Homo sapiens: one gene and its partners. The protein of the gene in region 3 interacts with the protein of the main gene of each other region in a biochemical or structural test. Each region holds a gene or a part of one and is shown on either strand. Other genes may lie near its edges. The genes, in order: TJP1, PARD3 and JAM3.

Evidence for each region.
Region 1: the proteins of JAM3 (region 3) and TJP1 form a complex in vitro, tested with the Homo sapiens proteins (2 studies listed by BioGRID and IntAct, with this or other methods).
Region 2: the proteins of JAM3 (region 3) and PARD3 form a complex in vitro, tested with the Homo sapiens proteins (2 studies listed by BioGRID and IntAct, with this or other methods).

What each region holds. Positions count from the first base shown.
Region 1 is NC_000015.10:29,821,005-29,824,750, forward strand, and holds the start of TJP1 (tight junction protein 1), read right to left. Parts: upstream 1,465-3,746; 5' UTR 1,025-1,464; coding exon 998-1,024; intron 476-997; exon of another isoform or gene 433-475; coding exon of another isoform or gene 412-432; intron 1-411. UniProt on the Homo sapiens protein: TJP1, TJP2, and TJP3 are closely related scaffolding proteins that link tight junction (TJ) transmembrane proteins such as claudins, junctional adhesion molecules, and occludin to the actin cytoskeleton.
Region 2 is NC_000010.11:34,813,737-34,817,482, reverse strand, and holds the start of PARD3 (partitioning defective 3 homolog), read left to right. Parts: upstream 1-2,186; 5' UTR 2,187-2,487; coding exon 2,488-2,607; intron 2,608-3,746. UniProt on the Homo sapiens protein: Adapter protein involved in asymmetrical cell division and cell polarization processes. Seems to play a central role in the formation of epithelial tight junctions. Targets the phosphatase PTEN to cell junctions.
Region 3 is NC_000011.10:134,072,067-134,075,812, reverse strand, and holds part of JAM3 (junctional adhesion molecule C isoform 1 precursor), read right to left. Parts: intron 1-3,746. UniProt on the Homo sapiens protein: Junctional adhesion protein that mediates heterotypic cell-cell interactions with its cognate receptor JAM2 to regulate different cellular processes. Plays a role in homing and mobilization of hematopoietic stem and progenitor cells within the bone marrow.

The DNA of each region.
Region 1 (3,746 bases), on a different chromosome or scaffold from region 3:
ACCTGCCCAAGTATCTCGATACTATTTGAAGTAATGAATTGATATTCTTTAAAGGGGAGATTTTTTACTCCTCACATTTCTGTATTCCTTTGTTTGAAATAACAAGTACTATTTTATGATGAAAAAATTAATATACAAAATGGGAGGAGCATCCTAGCTGTTTTTCAGGAACTTTGGCTTTTTAATGTAATACACAAGTTAGTTTCAAAGCAATGGGAAAATGCAATAATATTTCAGAGCACATAGGAAAAGTAACAGGAAAAACGTTACTTTTTTCGGCTGAACTCACCGGCCTTTACTAATTTTTAAGTGCTCATCTTATTGTCCATTCGTAGGAATACTTTGTATTACTTGTGAAAGTTTAATTCAAGTTAAATTATTAAATGTTAAAGAGGTTATTTTCAAAGTTACCTTAAATAAGTAATACAGCATGAAAGAAAACCCGACCTACTACGCCTCACAGGCTGAGTGGAGTGTTTTGCAGTCTCAAAGCCTTATCGCTGGCGTGCGCATACCGCAGGGAGTGACATCAGATCGAAACTACAGGGTTTCGCCGGGGACCAACCACTCCTCCAAAGACAGCAGCTCCCGGCCAGCAGGAGGTGGCACCCCAAGCCCCGACCCGCTGAGAGCCGGCTTCCAGCCCCCGAACCCTCACTGGAGCCGAGTTTCTCCGCGAGGGACCTGTTGCGTGTCCCCGCCCTCAGCGAGCCGCAGCCAGGCACAGGCGCCGGCAGCTATGCACCTGCCCAGTACGGCGGCCGGGCGCCCGCAGCCCCCTCCCCGGCCGCCCCCAGTGCGGCCCGCGCCGCCCCCGCCCGAGGGGCTCCCCGCGGCCCGCGGCCCGCGGCCCGCGGCCCCGCGCCAGCCCTGCCCACCCCGCCGCCCCGGGGCCCAGACAGCCGCCAGCGAGGGAGGGCGGGACGCGGGCCAGATGCCGGTGGGCGGGCGGCGACGGTCGGCCCGGTCTGGCCCTGGCGGCCGCGGAGGCGCTCACCTTGGCGGCCGCAGCTCTGGCGGACATCTTGTCTCTCTCCAGCGCCGCGCGAGGCTCCTCGGACCCGAAACTCCGCGGCGCTGGCCCGCCCGCTCCTCACGCCACAGCCCAAATAAACATCTCCCGAGAGCGAGCGGGGCACGGGCGGGGGCGGCCGGAAGGGCCCGGCCCAGGGGGAGGGAATTCAACTCGGACAAAAGTCCGGGAAGCGCCCGCCCCGCCCGGGTCTTCTCCACGGGGCGCGCCCGACCGGCACCTCCCTCCGAGCGCGGCCACCCACTCGGCCTCCCGCAGCTTTCGCAGCCCGGCCACGTCGGCCTCGCCCGGTCGCCCGCCCGTCAGCAGCACCCGTGGCCTCCCGGCGTCTCCTCGGAAGCCGGCTTCGCCACGTAACTTCCCGGGAACCGGCGGCCGCCAAGGAACGCGGCGTCCGCTGGCTCAGCCGGCGCCGGCAACTCAGCGGCCACGCAAACCTGCCGGCCCGGCCCACTGAGCATGCCCGGCCCGGCGGGGGCGGGGCTGGACGAGGCGAGGCGAGGCGAGGCGGGGAGGGGGCGGGGCCGCGGCGGGGGAGGGGGCGGGACGAGCGGCCGGGGTCCCGACCCCAAGCGCGGAAGGAAAAGCCGGGTAACCCAAGTAACTTGGAAGACAGTTTCCGCTGCCGTGCGAGTCTTCCTGTTTGTTTTTATCCAAGGTCTGGCAGAATTCGCCCCCAAGGAGAAAGCGCCTGTGCACCAAAGCTTTCCTTAAGAGACTTGTCCACTTGCTCCTCGACAAGCCACGCACATCATGGGGTGAGCCCCATGCATGAGTGCGGCTGGAAAGGCCGGCAGAGCCGATACCCGACAGTTGTTTCCTTCACTGGGCAAACAGCATGGTCACGGCTGTCACCGCGTGCCTCGGCGTTGTTCCCACGGAAGGCGGAATGCATTTTCTGCAAGGCGCGTCATGGCTTTCATCTCCGAGGAGCTCCGGCAGGGTCAGAAGCGTTGCTCTCGTTCACCGGCGCCGACTGCCAAGGCTGAAACTGGTGATGAGGTCATGGGCACCCGGAGGCAGCAGCCTGAGAAACACCCTAGAGACCTGTGACATCTCGGCCCACACCCCACATTAGACCTCAAGATATATCCAAAGTCTCTTTCCCGCCCATCTAGACAGGAATCTTGAAAAGTTTATTTTTGGCCATCAAGATTGCTGAAATTCTTGTTGACCGAACGGGTCAAGCTGCCCTGCATTCCAATGCTGTCCCTCCAACTCAAAGTTGGGCAGAAAAGGGTGTAAACACGTGCAGTCCATGGTCCAGTTTAATCAGCCACTACACAAACTTCCCACAATGTTGACGGCTTTGCTAAACACCAAGGAACATGGTAAGAAACCAATCCTAGACTCACTAATCTACACTTGTAAATGTAAAGGTCTTCAAAAAATGCCAGAAATCCTTAGTAACATCAATGATAACATCTTTAAAGTATCTGGTATAGTGCCACAACCGGCACAGAAGAAATGGAAGAAATCATAAACATCAGGCTTTAGACAATGGTTTTCTCTTTAGAATTCAACTGTATGAAAAGAACAAATTTAACAAAGAAGTATGTGTAGGTGATACATAAGTATCAATTAAGGCTTCGAAGTGCCACACATCTTGCAACCCAAAGCTGTCTGAACCAGAAAAGAGCCTTCTGCAAACCAAACCCTTATTCCTTTTTGTTCTTCATAAAAATGGTTGAAGTCATTTTTGTTTTAAAGTCATGTTGTAATTGTTTTGCTTTTGGACAAAGTATTATTTATTCTTTTAAGAATTGTGGGCCAGGCGTGGTGGCTCACGCCTGTAATCCCAGCACTTTGGGAGGCCGAGGCGAGCGGATCACGAGGTCAGGAGTTTGAGACCAGCCTGGCCAATATGGTGAAACTCCGTCTTTATTAAAAATACAAAAATTAGCCTGGTGTGGCGCGTGCCTGTAGTCCCAGCTACTCGGGAGGCTGAGGCAGAAGAATCACTTGAACCCAGGAGGCGGAGGTTGCAGTGAGTCCAGATCGTGCCACTGTACTCCAGCCTGGGCAACCAGCAAGACTCTGTCTCAAAAAAAAAAAAAAAAAAAAAAAAAAAAAAAAAAAATGGTGGCCAGGCGTAGTTGCTCACGTTTATAATCCCAGCACTTGGGGCCGTGCGCAGTGGCTCAAGCCTGTAATCCCAGCACTTGAGAGGCCAAGGCAGGCAGATCACTTGAGGTCAGGAGTTCGAAACCAGCCTGGCCGACATGGTGAAACCCCATCTCTACTAAAAATAGGAAAGTAGCCGGGCATGGTGACAGACGCCAGTAATGCCAGCTATTCAGGAGGCTGAGGCAGGAGAATCGCTTGAACCCGAGAGGCGGAGGTTGCAATGAGCTGAGATCATGCCATTGCACTCCAGCCTGGGCAACAAGAGCGAAACTCCGTCTCAAATCATCATCATCATCATCATCATCATCATCATCATCCCAGCACTTTGGGAGGCCAAGACCAGAGGATTCTTTGAGGCCAGGAGTTTGAGACCAGCCTGGGAAACAGTGAGACCCCATTAAAAAAAAAAAATTGTGATTAAATTTCTTCATATGCAAACACCATTTAAAAAGGTTTGGGAAGTATTTTTTAATTTTAAAAGGTGGTGATGAAAGACCTTTCACATTATCTTTACCATTTAAGAAGATGTGCAATTGCATAAGCTGCCTAGAACTAGGTGTGGTGTCTTTAATAGCACCTAAATCTA
Region 2 (3,746 bases), on a different chromosome or scaffold from region 3:
ACTCTAATTTATTATACTCAAGCTAGTATACCCCTCTGAACTAGTGTAGCATCAAAACTAGTATACATTCTCTGCCGCGCGGTGGCTCACGCTGCAATCCCAGCACTTTGGGAGGCTGAGGCGGGCGGATTGACCAGCCTGGCCAGCATGGTGAGACCCTGTCTCTAACTGAAAATACAATAATTAGCTGGGCGTGGTGGCGGGCACCTATAATCCCAGCTACTCGGGAGGCGGAGGCAGGAGAATCATTTGAATCCAGAAGGCGGAGGTTGCACTGAGCCGAAATCACGCCACTGCGCTCCAGCCTGCGCAACAGAGCGAGACTTGGTCTCAAAATAAATAAATAAATAAATAAATAAAAATAAATACATAAATAAATGTAAAAAACACAAAATAAAATAAAGTAGTATACATTCTAAACTAGTAGTATACTCTCCCAATGCATGAAAACAGAAACAACACCTATAATTATCAGTAATTGTTGTTGTGGATCCAAGTATCTATGTAAGAAGCAAAAAACCCACATCAACAGTTGTTGTCATCGTTGTCACAAACTTAATTACTGGCTAGAAATGTCTAGTGCTGCAGCCAAACAGCAGTAGGAGGAGCCTTTCCCATGGCTGAGTGGAAGGAGGGAAACCTAGACTATTTCTGGGTCTGCCTTGAGCTTTCTCTGCCGCCTTGGGCAAGTGACTTTGGCCCTGGGTCAATGTCCTGGAGTAAGATGGGGCTAACACCACTGCACTGATTTGCTGGGACAGGTGGTGGAAAGTGGTGGTCCAGGGCTGGGAGAGGAGAGGAAGGGCAATGTTTCCTAGGAGAAACTGCACTATGCTGGGGCAGCTGCGGTGCTGCAAAGCGCAGGGAGTGTGGCAAGCGGACGAACCTCGTGTCTTGTTTCCTTGTTTTAAGATTGGAGGTGGAGTGGGATGGATGGTCGATCGCCAGCTCTTCCAGCTCTTAAGTGCTCAAGTTCTGCGCCAACCCAGGGGAGCTTGATTGCTTTCACGTGTCTTGGAAACAACTGGCAAAAAAGAATTTCACATAGTCTGGAAAGGGCTTGGGACAGGGACCACTCTTTGCAGACATTTGTCATTCTTTAAACATAATGACATACATTTATTAAGGACTCATAGTCCATAACTAAGACAAAATGAGCTTCAGTTACGTTCCCTAACTCGGTCCACGTTCCTTTAGAACGTCTCAAGCCCGCATGTCACTCATCGCGGAGTCGCAGCCTTCCCCTGGGTTCGGGCGTCTGCGTTAAGCGCCGGCACATCGTGGGGATCCCCGCGTGAGATTTCTCTGCGCCGTCGGAATAGACTGTTCACGGATTCGCGTTAGGATTCCTTATGCTGCAGAACTTCAAAGAAATAAATGTATCAGAATTGCGATGTTTAAGTTCTAATCTATTTAAGCGGGTGGGTCAGCAGAGGGTCAACAGGAAACTTCAAGGTAAATAGTGGCCTCTGGAAAAGGCCCGGTCGCTCACGGCTTCCCCACTGTCTCCCCAGAGCAGACTATTAATTCTTGCGTTTCAGGCAGAACTGCCGCTGCCGGCCCTGCAGCAGAGCTAGGGAGCGGGCAGGGCAGAAACCCAGCCGAGCAAGCTGCAGGCTCGAGTCCCCGCGGGCGGAGAGGCTCGGGCTGGAGCCTCCGGGGCGGTGAGGAGGGGACTCACCGCACTGAGCACAAACTGCTTTCCCCGGGAGCGCCTGCACCCAAAACCCTCCAGTTCGAGGAATGGGATTAAAAGTGACAAAGAAAGGGGAAGGGGGGCTCCGTGGAGACTTCTGGAGGCGTGGAAGGGGCGTCCCCGAGGAGGGGCGACGCAGCCCTGCAGGGTGCTGGGCGGGCGGGGTGAAGGGGGCTGGGGGGCGCCTGGGCCAGGGCTGGTGGGGGCAGACGGCCGCCTGCCCGTGCTGGCACTGGGGCGAGGGGTCCCGCGCCCCCGGAGGGAGGGAGGGAGGGAGGGAAGGAGGGAAGGAGGTCGGCCCCCGAGGGCGGTGGCGGGGGCGCGAGCTGCGGTCCTGCGCTCCGCCCCGCGCGGGTAGCCGGCCGCGCCTCCCCCTGCCGCATGTGCGCGGTGTTGTGTGCCCTGCCCTGCTCCTCCCCCTCCCCTCCCCTCCCCTCCCCTCCCCTCCCGCCGTCCCCTCCCCCAGCGGCCCCGAGCGAGCGCCAGCGCCACACAGCCCCGGGCAGCCGCCGGCGAGCGCGCCGCGACGCCGAACAGGTGGCCGGAGGCTGCGGGCGCCGCGGCGGGGAGAGGCGAGGCAAGCCCCGGGCGAAGCGAGGCGAGGCGAGGGCGGCCGGGCCGGGCATGCGAGCTGAGCGGCCCCCCGGCGTCGCCGCCGCCTGCCCGCGCCCCTAGCCGCCCGCGCGCCCGAGTCCCCAGCGGCTCCTCCGCGCCCAGCGTCCTCGGTCCCGGCCTCGGCTGCTCCGGCTGCGCTCGGCGAGGGGCGCGGGCCCGCCCGCGGCGGCGGCGGCATGAAAGTGACCGTGTGCTTCGGACGGACCCGGGTGGTCGTGCCGTGCGGGGACGGCCACATGAAAGTTTTCAGCCTCATCCAGCAGGCGGTGACCCGCTACCGGAAGGCCATCGCCAAGGTGAGGGGCCGGGGGCGCGGGCGGGGAGGGGGCGGCGGCGGGGACGGCGCCGGGATCAATATGGCGCTTCCTGGAAGGGGGAGGAGAGGCGCAGGGAGGCGGGGAAAGGGAAAGTGCGGCCGGTCGGGCCTCGCGGGCGCCCCCCGCCCCGGACTGCGGGCGCCAAAGTTCTCTGCGCGGGCCGGGGCGCAGCCTCTGGGACACCCAGCCGGGTCCCGCGGCCCCCGCCCTCACCCTCCGCCCGGGAGCTCCGGCCTCGGTAGCGCGGGGCGAGCCGGGCAGCGGCGCATAGGCCGGCCCTGGGCGCCTCCCCGGAGTCTGCAGACCCAGCCAAGCCCCGAGCCAGCGCGCGGGGGGCGCAGGCCGGGAAATCCAGCCCCAGGCCTTTCCCGGCTCCCAGGCCCCGGGGGCACAGGCCGGGGACTGGGAACTTTTGGTGTGAGGAGAGTTTCGTGACTGCCCTTCCGACAGAGGCGGGTTGCGAGCCTTCTGCCTCCTCTCCCTTACTCGGGCGGGGGCGGAACAGCGGCGGGGGGCTTTTCCTCCATGTCCCCTGCTGGTAGGGGCCGGCAGGGGCGGCCCGTCGCGTCCGGGGGCTGCAGGGTTTGGGGAGTCGCCGGCTTGGGGTCGGGGAGGCGTTCCCGGGAGGGCCACCGCTGGCACTTGGCACTCGCTTGCGAGCATTTACTGAGCTGATCCCACTTGCTGGGCTCTGGAAAGCACAACCTTGGAAGAGTCGCGGAATGAAAAGTTTTCCTGCGAGGACCTCAGCTCCTACCTATCCCGGGCTGGTTCCATGTGGCTGGGCTGCGGGGCCGGGCCTGACTTGGGAGTTGAGTGGATTTCCCTTTTTCCTGGTGGACTGATAACATTGTCTCCACTTCACAGCATTCCTCTACTGTGTGTCAGAAGTGAAAAGGCGTTTTGTTAAATTGTTTTACCGACTGTGTCTGTGTTTGACAACAGCCCACGCTGAAGTTTCTCCCAAGCACCCGGGGATATATTTCCTTTGTAGTAGAGTCCTCTTTGGTGGGGAGCGCATTCGTTTGGGTGCAGTATTTCCCATTTGTTCCCGACAGTGGCCTGGCCCCTGTGGGCTTGGGGGCTGCAAATGACGTTGGAAAGTGGCTTGGTCAGCC
Region 3 (3,746 bases):
AGAACTGAGAATTCTCAAGAAAGAAAGAAACTCACAGGTATACAAACCACAACATATAACAAGTAGAATAACTGAAAAGAAATTCAGGGAGGGCATGGTGGTGTATGCCCATAATCTCAGCACTTTGGGAGGCTAAGGCAGTAGGATCCCTTAAACTCAGGAGTTCAAGATCAGACTGGGGAACATAGTAAGACCTTGTTTCTACAAAAAAATGTTCAAAAAATTACCCAGGTGAGGCTCCAGAGCCCGTGAAACAAATGTCTTATTTATGCCACCCTGTTTGTGGTATTCTGTCATAGAAGCCCAAGCTCACTAAGACCCCAGATAGAGCAATAAGCACAATGCTTATCACATAGTTTTCAGTAATTGGCAGGTGTTATTAATCATTATAACTCACTCATCCCAAAACAAAACATGTGCATTCCCAAGTCCATGCCTTTGCCCACATTATTTCCTCCACTTTCCCATCCACACCGCTGTCCCTCCCAAATCTATACTTAAGTCAGTCAATTATCTGTACAAGTCCAGCTCCTTTTTGAAATTCTCCTCTACCAGGTCAGCCCAGAGAGAGTAAGTGCTCTCACTTCTAAACCCACAGAATATTTACCCAAATGCTGCTCTGTTATTTGACTAAACTATATGTTCCCTCTGGTAAAGGGAAGACATTATCTTAAGTTCTCCTGCTTTGCCCATGGAATGCTTTACTGCCATGAAAATGGAGACTACCAAATAAATATGGATTGGCTGATTAAGTTTCAGTACCCTGACAGAGATGCTTTAAAGGAAAAACATGCCCCACCCCTGCCAAAAAAAAAAAAAAAAAAAGCAGCTGTCTTTGGATTTGTTGCATTGTCTCTAAGCTTCCAGGCAGCTGCACTTCATTCTAAAGACATTAAATATTTTCCTTAGAGAAAGACATCCAACAGGGAAGTCCATGTTGGGCAGGAAGAAGTGATGGGGCACATCAGCTGACAGAGTGCTTCGGGAAACATCTTTCAGAGTCTAGTTTCAACAGAAGTCAATTTCACCCTGTATTTTTATCACTCAAGAGGAAGAAAACAGAGATCTTCCAGGGGCTGCCACAGAGTAGGTGCTCAATAAATTTTGGCTCGCTTTGAACAGGTGAACAAAGGCCATTACTCAGATCGTTTTGTCAGTGTGTTCAAAAAGAAGGGGGGAGGCCGGTAATCTCGGCAGCTCTCAGTTTTCCAGCTAACCATTTGCTGAGGACACCACAGCTGACTCCCCCACCCAAAAGTCAGTGGCAACTAATCTCTCAAATGAGTCACAAACAATACATTATCAAGCAACTGAACTTCCAGTCAGCCACTCCTTCATCCAATGTGGCTGATATTAAGAAGCTAGAAAAAGGCACAATCCACATGCTATCACATTAAACAAACAAATTATATTTTCCCATTACTAGTGCCAAATTTAAAATTCCACTATTGTATCTACTGGAAGCCAAACCAAGATGCAACTTTTTTCATTACACAAAAAATATCCTCATCAAAGAACATTTGGAAAACAGACAAAGGAATACAAGAATCAACCAGGAAAACAAAAACAAAGAAAAGCAGAAAACAATTTGCTGTAACACTTCCACTCATAAACAGCCCCTATCAACAGTCTGGTTCATTCTCATCCTGTTTTTTCCCCTAAGCATAGATGTTTTGTGTAATCGTAATCATACAGTATATACTAGTATACCTGCAGCTTGTGTCACTTAAATGATATCATAAGCATTTCTCCATCTTTTTCTCCTTCTTAACCTTGTAACTGCACAAAAGCAGATGGCAGAAAGATTCTGAAATTAAACCAAGTCAATAAATTATTACCATTCTCTTTCTTCCAGAATAACTACTGTAGTACAAACTGACACTTTTCCAGAAGTTCCTAGGGCCACTAGAAATAAGACATTTTTTTAAAAATGCCTCGACACAAAGAGAGTGTTTAAGAAATGTTAACTCACTTTCAAGTGACAAAGTGAGATAAACTGAATATTTACTAGAATCACCTCTGGAAAGATACAAAAAAATTAAATTCAGCCTCTGTTACCAACAAAATGTTTATTATCATTGAGAAAATACAATGCACTGACACCTAACAACTAAAGCCCAATGTAAATCGGAGTCAATTACCCTGGCTCTTTAAGGACTGGCGATGTTTTACCCATTTTGCAACCCTAGCACACAGAACAGTGCCTGACACGTCATAGATACTCAATAAATGGGTGTTGTACTAAACTGAACTAGAGACTATGATCTAAGCTTATTTAGAGATAGGAAGGATCACTGTGGGCTGAGGTTGTCAAACATAGCAGATAGCATGACTATGGCAGAATTTGATTTTGGCAATAATTTTCAGGAAGAAGGCTGAACCATAGAAACCTTGGGAAACTGCAAATGAAAGATAATGTAAGAAAAAATGTTCATATAGTCCTAACTCTATTAAATAGTTTGATGTCTTTATACAAGCAGCACTGAAACCTCTGCTGTATGTATTAACTACTCATGGGAAATGTAATATATAACACATAACAAATACTACTTAAAACCAAAAGAAACACACCAACACAAAACACTACAGCATTCCTGGGACATCAGAAACAAGGGCTAACTCTCAGGAAGCTTTCTGTGTGCCATGCCAAGAAGCAGAGAGACAGTCAATTAAGGCTTTAGCTCTCCATATAGAGTACCACAGTGGATACTGTCCTTGCTAAACTAGGTGTAAAAGAATGTGCTTACCAAAACTTTCTTTCGGGATCGCTTTACACTCCAGTGAAGCTATTTGCATATACTGCTAGAATTCTGAGAGTACATGCAAAGATCTGAAATTTGCATTCAACTTTGACAGCATAACATTCACACCACCTGACTATAAACATCTTTTTTTTTCCCCCAAGACGGAGTTTCACTCTTGTACCCCAGGCAAGAGTGCAGTGGCGCAATCTCAGCTCACTGCAACCTCCACCTCCCGGGTTCAAGCGATTCTCCTGCCTCAGCCTCCAGAGTAGCTGGGACTACAGGCAAGCACCAGCACGCCCGGCTAATTTTTGTATTTTTAGTAGAGACAGGGCTTCATCATGTTGGCCAAGATGTTCTTGATCTCCTGATCTTGTGATCCGCCCACCTCGGCTTCCCAAAGTGCTGGCGTGAGCCACTGTACCCGGCCAACTATAAACATATCTTAAAAGAGAATCCAGCTGGGCGTGGTGGCTCACGCCTGTAATCTCAGCACTTTGGTAGGCCAAGGCGGGCAGGTCACTTGAGGTCAGGAGTTCAAGACCAGCCTGGCCAACATGGTGAAACCCCATGTCTACTAAAAACAATAAAAAAATTAGTCAGGCAAGGTGGCACGCATCTGTAATCTCAGCTACTCGGGAGGCTGAGGCAGGAGAATGGCTTTAACCTGGGAGGCGGAGTTTTGCAGTGAGTTTTGCAGTGAGCTGAGCTCATGCCACTGCATCAGAAACTCAGTCTCAAAAAAAAAAAAAAATCCAACTTCACCACTAGGGTATTCTTCAGCAGACTCCATACATCCTAACTTCATTCACACATATTTTCCTTTCTTTTACTACATTTGTGCTTTTAAAAAATTCAAAGAATTTATGGAGAAGGAATTTGCTAATACCACATCTCTAACAGCTGCTAGTCGAATGTACTAAATCCATAGCTGCGTCTGTTACATTATGTGGCCATCTTATACTTGAGGAAAGTCTGGTTGCTTTCAAAAGAACTGATTTA